Linked DNA regions of Homo sapiens. The protein of the gene in region 3 interacts with the protein of the main gene of each other region in a pairwise test. Each region holds a gene or a part of one and is shown on either strand. Other genes may lie near its edges.

Region 1 (7,146 bases), on a different chromosome or scaffold from region 3:
AAATTATCACATGGCCCTCTGTTGGCGCACATGTGCAAATTCCCGCATTGCCCATGTTGAGTTTAAAACCTCGAACTTATTTTATTGAAAAATTGTTAAACTGAAAACAATCTTAATTTGGCGTTATTTAGAATTTTTGAATAGTTCTACCGGTATCCTTACTTTAAAAGATTTCTGGTAGATAGAAATGGGCCATCTTTATCATATGACTAGATACCAATAGTAAAATATAAAGGTTTAGGGTTTGGGAAAGGATGCATTATTCTCTTTGATATAATTTTTTTCTAAATTAAAAATAAAGCCCCCAAATGTTTTCTAGTTTCCTGGAAAATTTATATACTGTATTATAGATTTTCCCCCTCAAAGAAATACCTACTTACAGGTGATATTAGGATATTGCACATATGAATTATAATTCAAAAATATTTCAACTTAATCTGAGAACAGGGACTGTAAAATACAGAAGTCTGGTGAATTTTGATCATCTAGGAAACATTAAACTATTTGAGCAACAGCTTAGAATGTGAATTAATGAAGGACTTAAAATTTAAACATGGAAGAAGTTCCTGAGCAACAGTAGAATTCAAAGCTCAAAGCATGTCTAATTGGTCCATCATTGAGTTTGCTGCTAAATAACAGAATGGGGCTATGCACACAGAAAGGCTGCAGCTTACTCTGCCTAGAGGTTTATATTCTTTTCAGCTGGGCCTCATTGGCAGCACCTTTTTACTCCCCTAAGTATCTTGACATTTCCTTTTTTCTTTTGGTGACGTAAAAGAAAGAACAAGGAACTATGCTCTTGATAGAAAAGAAAAATCCAACAGCAAAGAACAATGACTATTTTCATTAAATTTCCATTTTAAAAGTATTTGATATTTGGACCTAAAAGAAATACCAATGAGTATTGATTACGGTGCTGCCCACCTTTAAATTATCTTATCCTAAAGTCAAGCCTGGGTAGGACCCCAATCACTCAAGGAGGCTGCTGGTCTTTAGCAGGTTCAAAAGGCAATATCCTGGTCCTCCACCTTCTCTGTCCTCAGATCCACGGTGGGGAAACTGTAGGAAGGAATATGAACAGTGCAGGGGACAGGAGGCAGGGGTTCAGTTTTTAAAGAGCCAGTGGGCCATCTGAAGACAAGCACAGCCTTGACATTCAGCTCTGAAACTGCCTGCTGGAGGGGCGAGGCTGGAGCAGGAAGCAATGCTGTGTGGGCTGCACCGGGTTTGCCTTTGGCCCCAGCGTGGTCCCCAAAAGACGGGCTCCTTCTTAGAGCACATCACAGCACAGACTTCAAAAGGATAAGAAGTGACCATATTTAGAAATGACCCAAGTGCCAAGGGCAAGAATCAGGAGGCCCAATGTAAAAGCAATGGTTTTAGGTGCCCACTGCTCAGAGCTATTCCAACAGCGTCAGCATTCAGTGAGCCAGCAGATTACGCCATTCATAAACACCTGTGAAGGCTCCAGCGAAGTTACATAGGTTTCAGCTTGTGGAGTGTTGTATATTTACTGACAGTGAAAATGGCGAGCTATTTATAGGAGATTTAACGATCAGAAAAGTACTGCATTATTTCCTGATACACTGGACCCTTCCTGATATGCTTCCCTTTTGGAACAAAGCTCTGTTTTTACAAGGACTCTTTAAAAATTATTTTATTACTCCCATTTGTGCATCTAATGATATTTGGGGTGGTATAAATCATTTGCTTTATTTGTAAATGCTCTACTGCCTTTTATAGGTGGTCTTCGTAAATTACATTTACTCAAAAATTTATTCTTAATTTTTTTCACTTGACAAAGTGTATAAAAATATCTTAAATTTTCATTTTCTCAGAGCTGTATTCTTTTGGTAACTGTGAGCAAAGATCATACAAAAGTTATTTTAACTATATTAAAATAACTATATCAATTCTACTATAATATTGTAGAATTTTATTTTACCTCTAGACTGAAAAATTGATTTTGATGTGGAGTTGAACTTTAAAAAGTTGATTTTTTTCTCAAAATTCTTTCGAAATCTTATGATATGGATGGCTTACACGTAAATATCTAAATGGTTTGAAAAATAGTTTAAGAATTTCTTTTGACATTAATATATAAAGTTATTAATTTGATCTGGATAGTGAGTTGTCTCTTTTTATGTGACACAAACATAGATGTGTTAAAGGCACACACACACCACACACATATACACAAACCACACACACACCTCACATATACACACACATATGCACATACACACCATGCACCCACACACAACCATACAGACACTGCACACACACAACACACACACCCCACAGCCCACAGGTAGATGACTTGTGATGACTTTGGATGGGGGCTGTTTTCTTTCTTGTTAGAAAATAGGAAATGTCATATTTCTAGAAATACCCAATTATCTCAGTCATTTCTTTTATATTCATGTTTAAGAAAAAGATAAGCTACGACAAAACTTCCATCCTATAAAGAACAGATGGCTGCTTCTCTGCCTCCGCACGGTGTCTTACCTTTGAGTATATGTCATAGTTTTGAGGAATATATGATTACTATCATTAAAGCAGAGTCCTGGGAACAGAAAGCCTGGGCAGCAAACACGTGAACCCACTTGCAAGACTGGCTTTCCAGCCAACAGGCTGGCCCTGCAGGATGTGCCGGTGCTGCTGGCCTGCAGTGCCTGGCTTAGGGTAGGGGACATTAGAGCAGACACCTGGCCTGGTGAAGGTCCTGGACTGGTGAAAGGCAGGACACCTGGGCTGCAGCTCCACCGCCAGCTTAGTGTGGGGCTAGAGCAGTCAGCTCACCTCTCTGGACCTGGCTGTCCCTGGCTGCAGCAAGTTGAAGGCAGGGTTGTGCTGGGGTTGGTCTCTATGGGTTGGAGGCCTGGCCGAGGCAGAAATGGTGGCATCTGTATTGTTTTTTGCACCAGCATCTAATGTAATTGGAAGAGACGGGCCCAGGGAAGCACACTGCAGTATCAGGAGTGTGCTCACCTGATGGACACCTGCTGGATCACTGGGGCCAGGGCCAGACCCTGCAGTACAAGGATCCAAGTCCATGGTGGGGCTCAGAGGAAAGCAACAAGGAAGAGCCAGCATGTTCAATGAAAATACCCAAGGGCAGTAGAGTTAGTGAATTATTTAATTCATAAATAAAATGGTTTCAGATGCAATGGAAAGAAATGACCAGTTATGTGTGTTTCCTGGGTAAAGGACAAGAAAACAATTTTGCAATTTATCATAAGAGTTCTATAGTATGTGGTGGAAAAATAATATCTTTAAGGTGGGAGGCAGTGAGCATAGGAACAGCCTACTGAGTGGGTGGATGTTGACCATCGTGTGTGTGTGTGTCTGTGTGTGTGTGTGTCTGTGTGTGTGTGTCTGTGTGTGTCTGTGTCTTCGTGTGTGTGTGTGTCTGTGTCTGTGTGTGTGTGATGGGGTGTGGGGATGTGCAGCTGCACAATATGCCTTACAAGTTGGTTTTGGTCTTACAAGTTCATAATTACTCATTTTCTGTTGAGTTAAAAAACAAAACAAAACATTTTGACCCCACTGTGATTTTGCCTCTCCCCTCCCAACCAAAACAACAACAGTGTGACAAGGATCCACTGAGGGTCCACTGGGAGTAATTAATCCATGTCTCCCAGTGCTAGAATTGGTGAATTTTCCCTGAGTGGCCACGTCAGAGTTGCAGAGCAGTCACGGTTATAAATAAGCAGAGTGGCACCAGTTACACTGGGGTCAGAGGGATTAGGCATCCCTATTTGGACCATTTGAACCCCAGTGAGATACCAGGGGCCAAAGGCCATGTTTCCATGGTTACAGGCCATGCTGATCTTCTTTGTCTTTGTGAGGAGAGTTGGTGAGAAGGTGCCGGATATACCTCAGCCCTCCTGTACCACCTGACATGACTGGAAGAGGCACTGCTCTTCTTGGCTGGCGAGCATCTTCTCAGCTCTGGATGGCACCTCTGGCGGGTTTCTTTTTGAGGCAGGTGGCAGCAGTTTAGTTAGATCCATGGATTCTATGATCTATGGATTCTGGGCTCAGACATGCCTTGCTCTGCACCTCAGCTGGTCTGGCAGATACCACTGCCATCTAGTGAAGATTTGGGTTTCTAGCCATGAGCCCAGGTGCCTGTGAGGATCTGCAGTGAAGCCTAGATGCTGGAAGAAGCTGCAGAAAAGGGAAATCGAGGAGACAGCTTGAGCAGGTGCCTTACCCTGTCCATTGGAGCTTCCAGGTGCCTGATGCCTCAGCAGCTGTCTGGATATCTGAAGCTCCTCAAAACCAAGAAGAAAAATGTTCAAAGAGCTCATTGTTATAATGCTGCTTACTTCAGACTTGAAGCCATCCTTGGATATCATCTGAAATGCATGGTTTCCCCGAAGTGGAGAACCCCTCAAAAGAGGCTTTGCTCACTTTCGTCTATTGAATAGGCAGAAAAAGAAGCAAACAGTCCATTCCAAATTTCAAGAATTTAAACTCGTATGAACCCTTCAAACTCTGGAACTTGGCCTTCACCCAGCCTCACATCAGAAGTGCTCTCTACTCTGAGGTCATTCTGACAAACTTCATTTTATCAAATTCCATTAAATATAATTGTTTGGCAATCTACTGACAATAGTGCTTTTTGCTTTGCAAACATTAAAAATTTCCACTGCCACCTGCCCAAATAGAAACTTTCTGTTTTTTTCAAAAAAAAAAAATCAAAATATGGTTCTAGCTCTGTTGACAAGGAATTTACCCCTAAGGTGGTATTTAGCAGAGGTACTGTATACTCTGGGCCTCTTACAGTTTACCAAAGCAGGAGTCACAGATGGCTTTTATTTCTTAAGATAAAATGATGAAAACCTAGTTGTTTTGAGTGTTCTTTGCCTGGAAGACACAGCCCTTCACAATGACTTATTGTCCCTCCGGAAGATGGACAAAATGTAAGTGAATTATGAGGGGTTTGTGTACAATCATCCCTTGAGATCTGAGGGGGATTGGTTCCAGGAACCCCATGGATACCAAAATTCGAGCATGTTCAAGTCCCTGATATAAACTGGTGCAGTATTTGCAAATAACTTATGCACATCTTCCATACACCGTATACTATAAATGTAATATCTCTAGATTACGAATATCTATTATAATGTAAATGCTACACAAATATTTGTTATACTGCATTGTTCGATTTGTGTTATTTTTAATTTTTGTATTCTTATTTTTATCATGTATTTAAAAAAATATTGTCATGAATTTGGAGGGCCAACTGTATTCCATTATTCCCTAGCATATGCACTTGTTTATTTCTGAGATGGAGTCTTGCTCTGTCGCCCAGACTGGAATCCAGTGGCCTGATCATGGCTCACTGTAGCCTTGACCTCCCAGGCTCAAGCGATCCTCCCTCCTCAGCCTCCCGAATAGCTGGGACACAGGCACACACCACCATGCTTGGCTAATTGTTTTACTTTTTGTAGAGATGGGGCTTCCCTATGCTGCCCAGACTGGTCCTGAACTCCTGGCCTCAAGTGATCTGTCTGCCTCAGCCTCCCAAAGTGTTGGGATTACAGGCATGAGCCACTGTGCCAGGCCGACATATGCATCTTTCTAGGATTAAAGTGAGTAGTGCAGGTGTCTCTTCTGGCCATGGTGGGCCCTCCCTGCTGATTTTGACTGCATGAGCTATGCTTCAGGCTGGCAAAAATACAGGTTGGCCCATGCCAGGCACATTGTTTAGTTCCTGGATGTGCCCCTGTGCTGTACCATGTCGAATCCCAAACAGGAGCCCCTCACCACCCAGGATTTAGCGCATCCCTCCTTGCTGCCTCTCCCTCTTGAGTCTTGGTTTGGACGCCTCGGATCTTCCCAAGGAAAAGGCCTCCACAACCCACTCAGCAGGAAAGGCCCCTAAAAACTGGCAGCAGGAGAAAGAGAGCCTTGAGCCCATTTGTCCTGCCCATCCCTGACCTGGCAGGAGGGGTGAGGGAGCCTAACCCGCCTCACACTGATCTCCACCTCCTCCGCTTGCAGCCCTGCCTGTCTTGCAAGGTCACCTGCCAACCTTGTAACATGCCTTGTAAACCACCCTTTTATGAAATTTAAACATTTATTATGAGGATTTTAAAACATACATCATCATAGGAAACATATAAACACAACAAAATAGAGAGAATGGTAAAATGAGGCCCCAGGGACAAATGGCCCGCCACCCAACTTCAACAGCCATCAGCTCAGTGCCATCTGCACCCCACCCCCGCCTTGCACTATTTAGGAGTGGTTTCCAGACTTTCGGGTTTTGCCTGTTGCTCTTCTGTGGACTTGTGTGGGCCTGCCTTTGCCCTGGTGTGGGTCAAGCAGTGGCCTGGATGTCCAAATTCCTTCTAGACATGAAGGCCCTCCTCACGCAGTGGGAATGAGGGCCTCAAGTTGGCACGTGGTGACTGTCCTTCAGGAATGAACTTACAAATGTGTTAGTGGAGCTCTAGAATTGTGCAGGTCTGGGTGGTGCCTCCGCCTCAGTGCTTGGAGAGCACACCATGTTCTTGACTAATAAGTTGCAGCCTTGGGCTTAACAGTGATACCAAATATGGCCAAGTGGTTCAGGGTCCCGTTATGTGCTCAGACGTCCTGGATTTGACTCTGTGGTCCCTGAGAAGCACTGAGAGCTGTGAGGAGGGGCAGGCCTCCTAGTCCTCAGGTGGGGAGGTGGGAGTCACACCTCTCAACCTCCTCTGCTCAGTGTCCGGCAGGGCCTCTTCCAGCATCAGAGGAGCCTTCTGGAAATGGGTGTTCTCCCAAGTTGTTTTTAATAGTATTAGTCAGGGTTCTTCAGAGAAACAGAACCAAGAGTTGCTTATTAAAAAAGAGATTTATTATAAGGAATTGGCTTGCATAATTTTGGAGGCAGGCAAGTCCCAAGATCTGCAGGGTGGGCCAGACCCAGGAAAGCTTATGGTGTCAGTTCCAGTTCTGATGCTGTCCTGCTTGAGACCCAGGAAAAGCCAATGTTTCAGTCTGATCTGAAGGTGGGAAAAAATAGTGTCCCAGCTTGAAGACAGCCCAACAAGAGGAATTCTCTCCTATCCAGGGGAGGGGTCAGGCTTTTTGTTTTATTCAGGCCCTCAACTGATTGGACAAGGGCCACACAAATTGGGGAAGGCC
Region 2 (7,146 bases), on a different chromosome or scaffold from region 3:
GTGTTACTCAAACAGTCATATGTTTTATAGTCTATATGTTTATTTCCTGCCACTACTAGTTGCTCCTTGGAGGCAGGACCTGACTACCTGGTCTCATCCCTTTCTCTCTCTCCCCCCAGCATCTAGCACAGGGCCTCACGAAGCCAGCATTCAATGTGTGCTTGCTGAATGCATCATATGCTTGGGGTCTACGTGCTCTTCCACACATTGCTGATGAGTGAATCTGGGCTCAGAAAGGCAAAGTAGGTTGCTCAGAATCATACTAATGACAGACAGATCCAGGATTCCCTGACTTCAAGTCCTATGCTCTCTCTAGCAAGCAAATAAATATTCAAGTCATGTCTTAGCATTGTCAGGTGTACCATGTGGACACACCCTTGCTATCCACCTCATGGAGGAGGTGACCACTGGTAGATGCTATTTATACTTTTCTGGCGTTGCATTCTCTGACTCAGAAATCCTGAATGCAGCAGGACTGTTGCAACTGGAATGTTGGCACCCTAGAGGTAGCTGCCCAGGATGGCTGGGTGGGTGTGTCTTTGGACCTCTTCCAAGGGCTCCATCCTCCCAATTATCCAGAATGGCCTGCATTCCTGCTGCCACCCCCACAGCATCACCCGTCCACCCAGGAGGCTCCCCACCCTGGACAGCACCTCCACGGTGCTGCTGCCCAGCACCTGGAACCCTTGACTGTTGATCAGCCAGGTCCAGTGGTGATGTCAATGCAGAGCACTCTGATCCTCAGGCCAATTTGTGCTCTTATCTTATCCCTGCACCTTTTTTCAAAAGACCCTTCCTTTTGGAAGATCTCAATGAAAGCTTACCTGGGCTGGCTCTTCTCCACCCTGGCTCGCCCTCTGTGGAGGACTTGGTCTGTGGGCCGATACCAGGTCCTGGGCAGCCGGCAGAGGCACTAGGGCTTCTCCCTGCTGTGTCTTCCTGTGGTAGCAGCAGTGGCAGCAGCTCTCTCGCTTCCTGTGGTGTAAACAGGAAGCGAGACCATGTCAAAACGGTAGCCTCAAGCTGTGAGAAGGCGAGACACGCTTTGATTGGGACGGAAAAACGGATATTGAGCTGCTTTCAGTGAGAAGTTCATCAGCAGCCATGTAAAGAGGATTCTTTTCTCCTTGGTGCTGACGTGGCAGAGCCAGCACCTCCTAGACATGCAGAGCATCCCTTGACTTCCAGCAACCTGGTATCCAGGTCATGGGCTCATACTGTTGACATACTTGAAGACCCTGACTCTTTATGATAGGAACAAAAGGCTTTGAGTGTGGAGGGACTGGCATTGCTTCAGTTACAACTGCATCTGGTGAACTACCCACCCCGGGAGGGTATAGGGCAGCGTAGAAACAAGGCAGCAAAAAAACCTGGCAGCTAGTGTTCCCTAAGGTTAGAGCACTCAGGAAAATGCTTGTCAATTGCTGTCACTTGTTAAGCACTCTTCAAATATTTAGTAAGTGTTCTGCAAAAGATGACAGATACTCAGCACCTGTGCCATTGCTCCCCTCTGTGGCACCTAGGGTGACATCCTCAATCTGTTGCAGAATTGTTTCCACCACTGAGCCTGGATGCAGCCTTGGGGTCCTCCCAAAACAGCCTAGGGACAAGATGAACCAGGCTCTGAATAGCTATGCAATACTTGAAGAGTTTGGATTATCACACAGTGTGCTTAAGGTACTGTCAGGGCCCAGAGGAAACAGAGAGACCAGTTCCATCCCAGAGGTGGAGAAGGCTTCCTAGAGAAGTACTTTCTGTCTGCTTCATAAACAGAGTAAGAATTTTGCAGGCAGAGAGGCAGAAAAATAGTGTTCCAGAGACATAGCCCAACCAAACATAATACCCATCTGGAAAAAAAGATTGAGAAAGCAGACATCATCAAAATGATGCCACCTGTATTTGATTGTCTGCAAGAGAAATGCTTTGCTATACTGCGGTGGCCTCCACGTCCGGTTCATTCCAGATTTGTGTAATGATGGGCCATTTGACATGGCTGCAGGCTTCCTTCCAGAGAGGAAGGAAAGAGGAAGGAACAAATGCATCCTTTGGGACTAAAAAAGCAATGGCAAATATCCATGACCTGAAATTTAAGATCTACATTGACAATAAACATTTTGGAGGAAGCAAAGGTCTACAAAAGTTAGAAGTGTATTCACAGAGCATTGCCTCAGCTCGAGTTCCCTACTGTAGAACTGAGCTTTAGGAGAGCATTATGAAATACTGAGAGATCAACCAATTTCAAAGGAATCATTGAGCTTCTCGAACTAGCCCTTAAAAAAAGTAAGGCTGAGTCATGGCATTAGAAGCTCCAAATATTGGCCTGATGATCTCTAAGTCTCTTGTCCACAAGAGAAATTACATGGGGATGAAATTTAATTTCACCTGGTTGGGAGCTCTGTAAGTTGACATCTGTTGACATTCATGAATTGTTAGCTCTTTTACAGGCAGCCACATGTGATACCAACTGCAGTCAATGCAGCTTTACAACTTAGAACAGCACAAATGTGTTTTGTCTTTTCATCAACACATCCAATATTGCATCCTCTTCATGGGAGACTTCAGAATTAGCCCCTGAAATAAATTTGATTTTACACAAATTTTTCTCTTACTAGTGTTTCCTGGAACCATGCTTGGTGGATGAGGGAGGGAGAAGAGAAAGAAGGAAAGAGGGAGAGAGCAGATTCAGCATAGTGGGGAGAAAGTACGTTTTTGTTTGGTTTTTTTGTTTGTTTTCTAAGAAAGGATTCTTCGAAAATCCTGTTGTGTTTTTTTAAGCAAGTTTTTTAAAGCACGGGGGAGAGTTTAGGCTGATTTTTTATAAGAGGGATGTTAGTTTTTTGTTGAAGAAAATATCCCAAAGTTCATATTGGTTGTGAGAGTTAAGTCCCCTTGAATTAGAGTAGATGGGAAAGACTTGGGGGTCATCCATAGCAGCTTGACAACAGTCTTGGGACCCTGTAGAGAAAAGACTGCAGGGAGGGAAAAGTGGGAGAGTGAGACAGTGGACACTGTGGCCACGGAAGAAAACATCCAGTGAGAAATCCCCAGGAATGGTCAAGGAAATTTTGAGAGTGACCTCAAGCAAATTGCTTCCTGTTTTCTATTGCGTGCTATGATCCTTTCTCTGTGACCCCCGCCTCTCCAGTGCCCAATAAAATTATGTCGTGCTGATTGCTTTTATGGAAATGTTTGTGGGAGAAGGATCTGCTGGCCACGTGGGACAGACCAGAGCAAACAGAGGAGGGCAGCTGCAGAACGGCCTTGTCTCCAGGAGACGGTGCTGTTGGGGGCAGGTACAGGAGGGAGCCCTGTATTCTGCTGAGGCACACAGGGCATGAAAGATGACCTGTGGGAAGTTCCTTGCCTGGGCTTCCCTGAGGACACCCCAGTTCCTTCTCCAGACGCCTTACTCGGGAATATTCCCTGACCCTATGTGGCTCTGCCAAGGGCATCACTGGGACAGACCTGCTGTGGCAACTGCACTCCTTTTCTGGGCCTCCAGGAGGAAGGCAAAATGACTGGCTTCTCAGCTGGCTGCTCCTGATTTGCCCTTCTGGACTCATAGGTCTCAGGCCCAAGGGAAAATGAAATATGGGCTTAAAAGAGGGGGTGGGAGAACAGATCCATCTGATAACTCCATCATGTGTTGCTAACCAGCCACATCCTGCCAGCGCTCTGCAAAACTGCACTTCCTTTTTAGTAACCTGGCTTCCTCCTCCCTCCTTCACTTTCACCCCTCCTACTCAACATCCCGTCTCCACCGCTACCCCTCCTGAAGCTTGCCAACCCTCACTGTAGATTGTTTTAGGGGATTTCCAGAGGCCCCCTCCCACCTGCCCACGGTGTGCTTAAGGGAAGGGCCAGGGCCCCTGCAGGGCCATTCCGTGATGGGGGAGACAGCTTCTGGGTAAGGATGGGAAACTCAGCATTGCATAGTGGGTAACTGTGACCCACTAGCAATGTGAACTTGAGCGAGTTTCTCAGTTCCCTCTTTGCACAACTGGGACTCTCACCATCAGGTGGTTGTAAGATTTAATTGACACAATGTACATGAAAGTACTCAGTGTGGTTAGCCTGCGCATAAAATGGTTCTAGACACAGCAGCTGTCTGTCAGTCAGTCTGCCTTTTATGCAAGGGGTGGAAAGGAGGGCTTTAAGGGGCCTGATGGGGAAAGATCATGGCAATGAATGCTAATATGCCTGAGATGCTGTCAGGTACTTGCCTTAAGTGGTTACCTTTAATCCTCACAATAGCCCTTGGAAGGAGCCACTCCTCCCGGGTTTAAGCAATTCCCTGCCTCAGCCTCCTGCGTAGCTGGGATTACAGGCACCTGCCACCATACCCGGCTAATTTTTGTATTGTTAGTAGAGACAGGGTTTCACCATCTTGGCCAGGCTGGTCTTGAACTCCTGAGCTCATGATCCACCCGGCTCAGCCTCCCAAAGTGCTGGGATTACAGGCATGAGCCACCGTGCCAGGCCCCTTTTTAGTTATTTAAGCCACTATTCTCCCTACAAGCAGGACACTCAAAGATCCACATGCAAAGACTGAGACCCTGCAGGGGCCCTGGTATTTTTCCTTCATGGTGAGTGAAAAATGACACAAGAAAGGAACCTTAAATTCCAGTGTGTTATGGGTGGGAACCCAGATGCCAGCAAGCAGGACTGGGACTTCAATTATCTGTCAACCTTCAAACCCATCTTTTCATGGTCAGTCCTCAGCTGAGTCCTAGGCAACAGTTTCTCTCTGGTGGAGCAGGAGAAACTTTCATTCTGGCCCTGCTAACACTAACTTGCTAATTTGCCCATGCTCAAGATTTGAGTCTGGTCCTGGAAACACTCAACCTGTGGACCCATCCTCTTACCTGGCCACAGGTGGGTGGGGTGTGCCCAGAAGAGCATGAGGAGTTCTCTCTCTCTTCCAGACTCTTCTGAGGGTCACTGTCACTTTTAAAGTATTTTCTGGGTGGAGGCTTGGGCTTGGAGGACATAGGCTTTCTCACCAAAATCTCAAAGGATTTCTTCAGTCTCAGCGGCGGGTGGCTGTCCCGGCTCTCTGGGAGGGGTGGGCTCTCCTGGGGCAGCCTGGAGGATGCTATAGAAAGCACCACTGGCTCCCGTGCCAGAGGCAAGCTGGGGCTGTGTGTGCTGATGTCCACGTCAGAGGACGGCTTCTCAGCACTGCCACTCCCAGGACTTCCCCCTGGGGACCCAGACATGTAGCTGCTGTCACTGCTGGAGCGGATCATGACCTTCTGAGCCCTGCGATGCGGGGGTGCTGAGTTCTTCTCTCGTTCCTTCTCCAAGGTGGGCCGCCCGTGCCAACTGCTTTCCAGCCTTTTGACACCTGTGTGGGAAGCACAAGAGAATCTTCACAGCTGAGCTTCAGAAAACAGAAATACCCCCTGGCCTCACCTGTGACTGCCACGGGCAGCACACTGCACATCGGCCATCTGCTTCTTATCTGAAGTCACTGTGGATCTGGAGTATGGCAGTCTTGGTGTTGGTCCCTGGCGAGCTGTATGACTTTGGGTTGGGAAAATCATTCAAGCTTTCTGAGCCTATGACTGATGTATATGGAGATATGCCACCCAGATCACCCATCGAGGAAGGGCTTGGTGTCCCAGCTGTGGGGAGTGCTGCTGGCAGACTACTTTCAGCTGTGGGTCCCTCCAGGGGCTGCCACAGCTGCAGACAGCTGCCTTGTCCAATGGGGCAGCCCATCTCCAGGGACTGCTGGAGATAGGGTTACAGAGGCCCAGCTATGTTGGCCAACATAGGACAACTCTAATGGGGACTTTGGCTGCAGAGCTCCAGGGCTTGGCTGAAGCTGTTGGGTGTGCACCTCAGCTCCGTCCTCCCTCTGTCTACCCTGCCTGCTCCCCTCCCTGCCACAGGTAGTGAACCCCAGGACACTGCCTGCAGACCAAACTCCATCTCAGAGTCAGCTTCCTGGGGGACCCAACTCCATTTCTGCATCTGTAAAATGAGGATGATAATTTTAAAGTCACTGGGGTTATTTTGAGGCTCAATAACAAAGACAGAGAAACTACCTGTCAAGGCACTTTGAATCTTACACGAAGAAGTCACTATTTCTTTCCAGTTGAGGGTGAGGTGAGGGCAGAAAGCCGCTATTTCTTAGCCACTGCACCTTCCTCCCTCCCTCCCCATTAGCCCTTCCTGGTTCTCAGTACCCCCTACCCTAGTTTCCAGCACTAGGGCTACCCACACATCCTTGAGAGGCCCTTCTCTCTAGTGGTAAGCTGTCAAGGGTGCCCCTTTCCTAAAATCACAGCTTGAAGGGGTGGGAGAGGATTGAAATCTAGTCTCTTGCTCAAATTCCAGCTCATTCTGAGAGACCAAGAAAGCCAGAGGAGCCCCATGAGAGAGAACCAAGGCCAGCCAAGCTCCTAACTCACTTTCTCTTTAAATAAAAAGTTTTCTTTTTTTTTTTCCTGATCATGAAATAATGCATCCTCCTTAGAGAAAACTCAGCCACAAGGAGGAAGGAATGAAAGTAAAAATTCACTTCACCTGTGTTCCTATCAGCCAGAAATAACTACTGTCAAAATTTTGGTGAGTTTCTCTGTCATGCTTTCCCGAGCATATATGCATGTTGGGTGGGTAGAAATAATAAACCAGAGCTGAAATAAATTGTGTTCTGTTCTTTTCTCTGAACATTTCCCCAGATCATTTAATTTCTTGTCAATATCAGTGCCAATGGTTGCATGTTGTTCTTTCATAAGGATGTTCCATGGTAGACGTGATTAATGCCCAATGGCTAGGCATGGGAGTCAAGCCAGCTGGATCTCCATTCCAGAGCCTCTGTGCTCTAGTGGTATGACTTTGAGTAAGAGAGTCTCTGAGGGCCTCACTTTTTCTTATAAAATTTGCATAAAAATTATGTGTGAATGCATGAATTAGCATAGTCTCTGATTTATTATAAGAATTATAAGAATTAAATAAATGTCAGAATTATATTCCCAAATGTTAGTTTTTCTAATATTCTATTATTATAAACTAGGGGCTGCAAACTCAAGTGCCTGCAGGGGCTATTGTGTGAATGGCAACTTGGTACAGGATAAAGGGAACGGTGGAGACCACCGGGAGCTGGAGAGAGCCTGGCACATTTGTAGCAATTTAAAT
Region 3 (7,900 bases):
AGCAGCTTGTGGCAGGCAGCAATCTCAAAGTCCAGGCCCCACTTGACGATCACAGCTCTCAGTACTCACACAGCTGCTACATCACATCCTGCTTAGCTCGCTGCAGGGCAGCCTCCAGCCAAGCCAGCTTGCCCTTGGTGCTGCCAGAGCCACCCTCCTCCTGCAGAGCTGGCGGGTCCTTGACTTCCTCTAGTTCACAGGGCGTAGGGAGCGAAGGGTAGACCAAGGACAGAAGGACATTATTGGCCCTCACTCCTTCCCCCTTAAGGATCCAGACCTTGCTCTGAGGCTGCAGAGCCAATGAGGGATTGGAGATTGTCCATGGTTGCAAGGAGTGAGCACACCTGTTCCAAAACTTGTGTTTGTTTGTCTGTATGGCAAGATGAAAAGAACCTGCCCACCTGTCTACCTTCAGGGTGAAGATTTGAAACCGGCTATCTAGGATGGCTGAGAGAGAGCCTTTTACGTCTAGTATGGAGAAACTCCTAATATGAGCCAGGATCCCAGAAGCATCCAATGCTCTTTGGCATGTAATGCTGTGGTTATTGTTTCCTAAGGAAAACTAGCAAGAAGAATATCCATTCCTCACGGGAACCTAGAGTTTATACTCTTCAGGAGGAAAAATAATAAGACCTTGGTGAAGTGTATTTGCTGCTTGGGGAACCAGAACAGCTGTGGCTGGTGGGACCCTGACCATGATGGCCCACCCACTCACTCTGCCCCCTCAGAACCTCAGCAGCTTATCCCTTCTCAGAGTCACCCATTCCTGTACAAGGGAGATCTCTCTCCATGAATACCCTTCCAAGCCTGAGACACTTGCATCTGCAGAAAGCAAGAAAAGACCGGGAACAGAAGCCCTTCCCTCCATGGAGTGAGACTTGAGCCAGCGGGGGTGTGAGAGGGCTGGGAGGTGGGTGGGTTAAGAGAGGAGGCTAAGAGAGAATGGGAGAAAGAAAACATCCTGGAGGACTAGCTCCTTTCTAAGGCTCACAAATGCAAGTGCTTGCAGAGGCCTAGCTGGAAGCATCAAAAGGTGAAGGCTAAATATACATCAGGAGTACCCAGTTCCACAAATACATCTGCCCTCTCCCATTTCCTGAAATCACCAGCACCTCTTTTATATTTTCAGACTTGCATTTCTCTGGCGACATTGACTCAGCACCTTTTCTCTTCTACAAGGATAATAACTTGCAGCCAGGACAGTGATAAATGGCAAGGGACCCTCTGCCTCACATCCAAAGGATGGGATTGGGAGTGGTGGGGACTGCGGCACACCAGGCAGCCTATACCGCATGTGAAGAAGAGAGAGATGATAGAGGCCTCTCTCCTCTAGCCAAATGTTGCCATTTGAGAATCATAATTTAACATTGCCAGATCTTCACATTTTGAAATAGAACCCAGAAAACTGGGTTTCTAGGTAATATCTTGCAATTTCTGAAGATGGGCTCAAATGTAATACTGAGCGAGAAAAACAAAACACAGACATAAAAATGAACATACACAAGTAAAAAGATAATAATGTACAAACAAGCATATATCTTCATACAGATTTACCTACATGTTCATTACTTACATAAAATACACAATGTCCTAGGCAGAGGTAAGCATGATATATGCATGCAGCTGCACTGCTGTATGCTTAGACATTCACTAAGAGAAAGTGTAGCCATCTAATCCAAAGGGTAGGTGGGGAGGGGCAGTTGTCATAAATAATGGTCACCATCCCACCATGGCCACTCTGTTGCCCCCCACTCCCACCTCTCACCTGACTCTCAGCACTGCCCACCTCCACCGTCAGCCACTGGATGGCCTGATTAAGCCTGTTCAGATCCTCCTTGCTGGGCTTCAGGCTCTGCGTGTGTTTCTGCACAGTTGCCTTTAATTCCTCACACTGTGGAGCAGACGGCAGAGGGGAGCTGTAGTCAGGAGGTGAGGAGGCCAGACAGGGCTGCCCATCCACCTGCTGTCACCAGTGGTCACCTAGCTTCTCTGGGCATCCCTTTCTCCATCTGTGAAATGGGAGTGATCATTTTTCCTATCTCCAAAGGTTGTTGAAAGAACACAGTGAGCTTGCCTTGTGCCCATGGGGCCAGAAGATGCCAAAGGAAGCCTGAACTCAGGCAGGAAGGGCAGCAACACAGGGCAGTGATCTGTTGAGGGGAGCTTTGGGACCAAGATCACATAGGGTTTATCCCAGGAACAGGGAGAGTTAAACTCTAGGAAACTGATTATTGTAGTTTACAACATCTAACCATTTAAATTAGTACAAAAAAAATTAATGAAATTCAATATTTCCTAATTTAAAAAACACATTTTAAAATCTAGGATTAGGAAGAAATGTCCTTAATTTGAATGCCATTAATCAGAAACCAGGGACAGTGATCTAGATTCCAGCTTCTTCCCCAAACCCAAGGCTGCTATGGGAAGTGCTGTCTATGAAATCAGGGGACCACTTCCCTTCTTGCACCTCGCCCCCATGTGCATTCAATACACGAATAGCCAGGGAACAATAACTCACACTTGCACAGTGCCTGATGCTTTTCACAAGCTTTTACTCCACGATCTCACTGGGGCCTCACAACCACCCATGAAGTTGGCCAGATGGATGTGACTTTTCCCATTGTCTTTCCTCAGGCAAACTGGGGCTCATTCCATCCACCACGTGCAAGAGGGGAGTGAGTGACCCTGCCAGCCGACAGTTGAGCCAGACTACATTTTAAGCCCATGCTCTTTGCTCTCCACCAAGGTTATACACACCCCCTCAACCCAGAGAGCAAGAACTGTTCACACCAGCCCATTGCAAACTTTCTTCTAGGGCAGATGGAGTGTGGGGGAACAGACCTCAAAACATCATCTCAATTTCTGCTGTGTTCCCACTGCCCCCAACTTTTCTGCTCCTGTTCCCAAAAGCTGTATGCCCAACAGATCTGGGTGAAGTCCAAGACACCTCATCCCTGTGTGACCAGGGAGCCACGTGTATGAGTCTCACCATGGAGAAAGAACTGTGGTCTCCTCCAAGCCTCTCTTGAGCACCAAAGCCCAGCTTCAGCCCAAGAGCTACCAGAATCCTTGCCACTGAGGACTAGGGCCTCTTCTTCCTGGGGGCTCTGTGACCTCATCTCATTACAATCACAGAGTTCTGCCCAGGAGGCCTCAGGGGCATAGGGTAGAAGAGGGCCATACTCTGACCCCAGGTGGGAAAATGGAAGTTTCTGGGCTGAAGTGGAACTTAAAGGAAAGTGGAGGAGGGGAAGGCTACCTCAGGTGGAGGAAATGTGTGGAGCTGAGGAGCTTAGGCTTATGGATGGGCACTGGGGAGCCACAGAGGGTGTCTGAGCAGGACAGTGGCCTGACATGAGATGTGATTGTCTAGAAGCAGTGCAGAAGATTGACAGGAGGGCAAGAAATTGGGACTGGGGATGCCAGTCCCAAGACTTGGTAGGAAATCTTGGGTAGGGCAATGACTTTAACCTGTAGGAATGAGTAGGGGCTAGAGAGCACAAGCTGTGGTCAGCATTTTCTTTTTGTTTTATAAATTTCTCATATATGCAAAAGAGTATGCAAAACCTACATTTATTGATTTCAATAGCAACAATAATAAAACAAATCCTTGTGTACCCACCAGTACCTTCAAAGCCCCCTGCGGGATTTTTGCTGATCCATCTCCAACCCCATCTGATCCCCAAAGTAACCACTGTCCTGAGTTTTTATATTGGTCATTCCCTTGCTTTTCTTTATTACTATGTCATAACGTGTATCCATAAACTAGTGTTGAGTTTTGCCTACCTTTAAGTTTTATATAAATAGAATTACACCTTGTACATTTCTATGACTTGCTTTTTCCTCCTCAACATACTAGTTTTGAGATTCATCTTTTTGATGCATGTAGTTTTATTTCTCAGTGTTGTATAGTATTCCAAAGTATGACTACATATATATAGATAGATACAGATATAGACACACACATATACATATATCTCTATTTTCCTATAGGTAGCACATGTGTTTTTTGTTTTTGTTGTAACAAACAATGCTGCCATGAACTTTCTTGTACATATCTGCTGGTGGACCTCAACAAGAGGTTCTTTGGGGTACTAGTTGTCAAACTGTTTTTTAACCTCAACTCTAAATAAGAAATATATGTTGTATCATGAATCACTACCTACGTACAAATACACCACATCTACTGAAATAAGTTTCATGGAAAAATCATTTACTTCTACTATGTGTAAGGCAATCTGATCTAACCAATCACCTTAACACATTCTTTTACTTTCAACTTATGTCCTCATGTTTTAAGTTTATTTCTTATAACTAGCATATTACTTTATTATTATAATATAATGAAAATGAAATACTCATGAACCTACTTACTGATCCCAAAACTAAAATCTTACTAGTAATTTACATTTAGCTCCATGCTCCTTCCCTACCCTGTCCTCTCCTAACCACCCCAGAGGTAACCACTTCCCTAAAGTTGATATAATTCCTTTGTTTTTTCTTAGCTTTATCAAATACATGCATATGCCTCAATATATATTTGTTTCAGTTTTTTTGTTCTTTTTTTATAAAAAGTGTGTCACACAGGGTCTTGTTTTATTCAACATTATGTTGCTAGTATTCCTCCATTATAATATTAATATTCCATTCTTATAGTATTCCATTGTGTAACTATACCACACTTTAGGTAATTCTATTACTGTTTTGTTTTGTTTCTTTCTCTTACAAAGGTGGTGCCATGAACATTTTTCTACATGTCCTCCGATGCACATATGTGAGGATTTGTATACAACTACAAACAGAACTTCTGACTCATAGGATGGTCAGAATCTTATAAAGGTGTTAACTTTATAAGATAATATAAAATTATTTTCCAAAGTTGTTATAACAATTCACACTTTGCTCAGCAATGTGAAAAAGATTCGTATCCTCTTTAATGTGTCTTAATTTTCAACAATTAAATAATGCAATCTCATTTTTGGTCTTGCTTTGTATTTTCATGATTACTGTTAAAGTTTAATATCTCTTTAAATGTCTATTACATGTGTATTTCCTTTTCTTTTGTCCATTTTTTTCTATTGGGTTTTTGCTGTATTCTAAAGGATTATAAGTGTTCTTTATATTTCTGAGTATTACTATTATATCACTTACATATATCACAAATATTATCAAGTTTACAGCTTATCTTTTCACTTTATCACCTATTTTGAAAAATAAAGTTGTTAGTTTTAATGTAATCTAATTTATCAATCTTTTATGTTGAGCATTTTATGTGACATGTTTAAAAATCCTTCTCTACACCAAGGTCAGAAAAATATTCTCCAATATTTTCTTCTAAAATTCTTAAAGTTTTGCTTTTGACATTTGTAATTTAAATTAATTTGAAACTGATTTTGTGTATAAGAGAAAACAGGGATCTAATTTTATTTTTTACATGTGGTTAACCAATGCATAGTCCTTTTCACTACTGATCTGCCATACCACTTCTATTTTACAACAAAATCATTTACTTATTTATAAATAAATTTAGGGGCTATTTTGTTCCATTGGTCAGTTTGTCTATTTTTGTGTGGGTACTATACTTTCTCAATTACTATAACTCTATAATACATTATAATCCCTGAAAGAGAGAGTACCTATTTCTTCCTTCTCATCATTCCTTAGCTGTTCTTGACCTTTGTTCTTCCCCATAAATTTTAGAATCAACTTGTCAAGAATTATGTAAATCTTCATTTGGAATTTGAGTGTAGTTGCGTCAACTCTGTAGATCACTGTAAGGATAATTAACATATTCATGATAGTAAAGCTTCCTATCTAAGAACATGGTATAGCTCTTCATTTAATTATGTCTTCTTTATCTTTTCTTTCCTATAACATTTTGTGTAACGCTTATATTTCTCTAGGTGTAAGTCTTTCACATATGTGTTAGATTTATTTCTAAGTATCTTATGCATTTTAAATCATTATTTTATCAACTTAATTGACATATAATTTGCATACAATTGTATCTCAATAAAGCGCACACATTCTAAAAGTACAGTTCAACAAATTTTGACAGATGTATGCTCCAATCTAATCACCACTGAATGAATCTAGTTCATTATTTTTTGTTGCTGAATGATATTTTATTGTATGACTATATCTCAATTTGTTTATCCATTCATCTGCTGGTACACATTTGGGTTGTTTCCAATTTAGGGCTATTATAAATAAAGCTTCTATAAAATTCATGTACAAGTCTCTGTATAGATCTGCTTTTATTTCTTTTGAGCAAATACCCAGGAGTGGAATTGCTGCATCATTTGATAAGTGCATGTTTAACTTCATAAGAAATTGCCAAACTGTTTTCCAAAGTTGCTCAATCATTTTACACTCCACAAAAGTTTCAGCTGATTCACACTTGGTATTGTCAGTCTATTAAATTTTAGCCTTCTAAAGGAGGCAAGAAGCAAGGAGGAAAAGAAGACCAGAGAAGGGAAGGGAAGAGCAAGACAGCAAGGGAAGCAGAAGGTTGAAAGATGGTTGGTGAGAGGCTATCCTCTTCGTGGGTTCAGTCAGGTCAGAATCCTCAAACAGAACATGCCCATGGGCTACGTGCCACTCCTCTCAATAGCCTTTCTCAGCTTGAGGGCAGCAGGGGCCAAGGAAGAGAGATTCCCACACAACAAGAAGTAAGAAGTGGGAAGCAGACAACGTGGATCAGGGTGGGTCAAGCAGTGGCGCCCTGCCACCAGGCTGCACAAGGTCAGGTAGGGCCAGCTGGGACCCTCGCAAGGGTGAGAGGCTGGGCTGGGTGCATCCTCAAGCTCTGCCAACTTAACACTTCCTGTAGCTGCTGCCACAGGCCCCATCCCACAGGAGCTGATGCCGCAGGTGCAGGTGGCCAAGAGGCCCCCACAGGCAACCCCACCAAGGAGCTGCTCACACCTGCACAGAGACAGCCATAAGAAGTTAAACCCTTTGGTCGGGGTGGGAGCTGGTCCCAAAAAGCCCCACCTCCAATCAGCACTGGCTTCCTACCAGCTGGGAGCAGCCAGGAGGATGGCTTCTTCTCACCTCCATCTCCAGGGGTGAAGATGGCATTGCTTCCCTGTAGTCTGTGCGAGGGACTGACACCCTGACTAGGAGGGACTCCATCTTGGGGTTTAATCTCAATCCCTTCTTTTTTTTGTGAGATGGAGTCTCACTCTGTCACCCAGGCTGGAGTGCAGTGGCACGATCTCGGCTCACTGCAACCTCCACCTCCCAGGTTCAAGCAATTCTTGTGCCCCAGCCTCCCAAGTAGCTGGGATTACAGGCACGCACCATCATGCCTGGCTAATTTTTTGTATTTTTAGTAGAGATGGGGTTTCACCATGTTGGCCAGGCTGGTCTCAAACTCCTGACCTCAAGTGATCCACCTGCCTCAGCCTCCCAAAGTGCTGGGAATACAGGTGTGAGCCACCACACCCAGCCTCAATCCCTTCTTTCTGTAAATATGAGCTCTTACTATATTGCCTGGGCTGGTCTCAAACTCCTAGGCTCAAGCAACCCACCTGCCTCGGTCTCCCAAAGTTCCAAAGGGATTACAAGGGTGAGCCACCGTACTCGGCTGAGACCCTGTCTCAAAAGAAAAAAAAAAAAATCAGGATGACCTTAGGATCCACAACATGTGGATTTGATTACAGCTCATTCAATCCACATGTATTTAAAGAAGATTAAATGCATGTTTTAATCCAGTAAAGTGACTGACATCTTGAACATGGACAAGTATGTTTGGACAGGGAGAGAATAAGAGCTTCCTACTGAAGGGGAGAAATTATAATTTTCCTCAACCCACATAAATTCGTAGTTGAGACAGACTCCTGCAACAACAGACAGATTAACAAGAGAAAAACAAGCAAGTTTACCAACAGGAGCA

What was found. The genes of interacting proteins can lie anywhere in the genome.
Region 1: the proteins of KRT86 (region 3) and SHC3 interact in binary tests that used the Homo sapiens proteins (3 or more experiments, as listed by UniProt).
Region 2: the proteins of KRT86 (region 3) and IL16 interact in binary tests that used the Homo sapiens proteins (3 or more experiments, as listed by UniProt).

What each region holds. Positions count from the first base shown.
Region 1 is NC_000009.12:89,168,795-89,175,940, reverse strand, and holds part of SHC3 (SHC-transforming protein 3), read left to right. Parts: intron 1-7,146. UniProt on the Homo sapiens protein: Signaling adapter that couples activated growth factor receptors to signaling pathway in neurons. Involved in the signal transduction pathways of neurotrophin-activated Trk receptors in cortical neurons.
Region 2 is NC_000015.10:81,290,757-81,297,902, reverse strand, and holds part of IL16 (pro-interleukin-16), read right to left. Parts: intron 5,348-7,146; coding exon 4,866-5,347; intron 2,886-4,865; exon of another isoform or gene 2,572-2,885; coding exon of another isoform or gene 2,521-2,571; exon of another isoform or gene 2,455-2,520; coding exon of another isoform or gene 2,383-2,454; exon of another isoform or gene 976-2,382; coding exon 825-975; intron 1-824. UniProt on the Homo sapiens protein: Interleukin-16 stimulates a migratory response in CD4+ lymphocytes, monocytes, and eosinophils. Primes CD4+ T-cells for IL-2 and IL-15 responsiveness. Also induces T-lymphocyte expression of interleukin 2 receptor. Ligand for CD4.
Region 3 is NC_000012.12:52,269,812-52,277,711, reverse strand, and holds the start of KRT86 (keratin, type II cuticular Hb6), read right to left. Parts: upstream 3,068-7,900; 5' UTR 2,993-3,067; coding exon of another isoform or gene 2,990-2,992; exon of another isoform or gene 2,635-2,989; intron 1,892-2,634; coding exon of another isoform or gene 1,766-1,891; intron 1-1,765.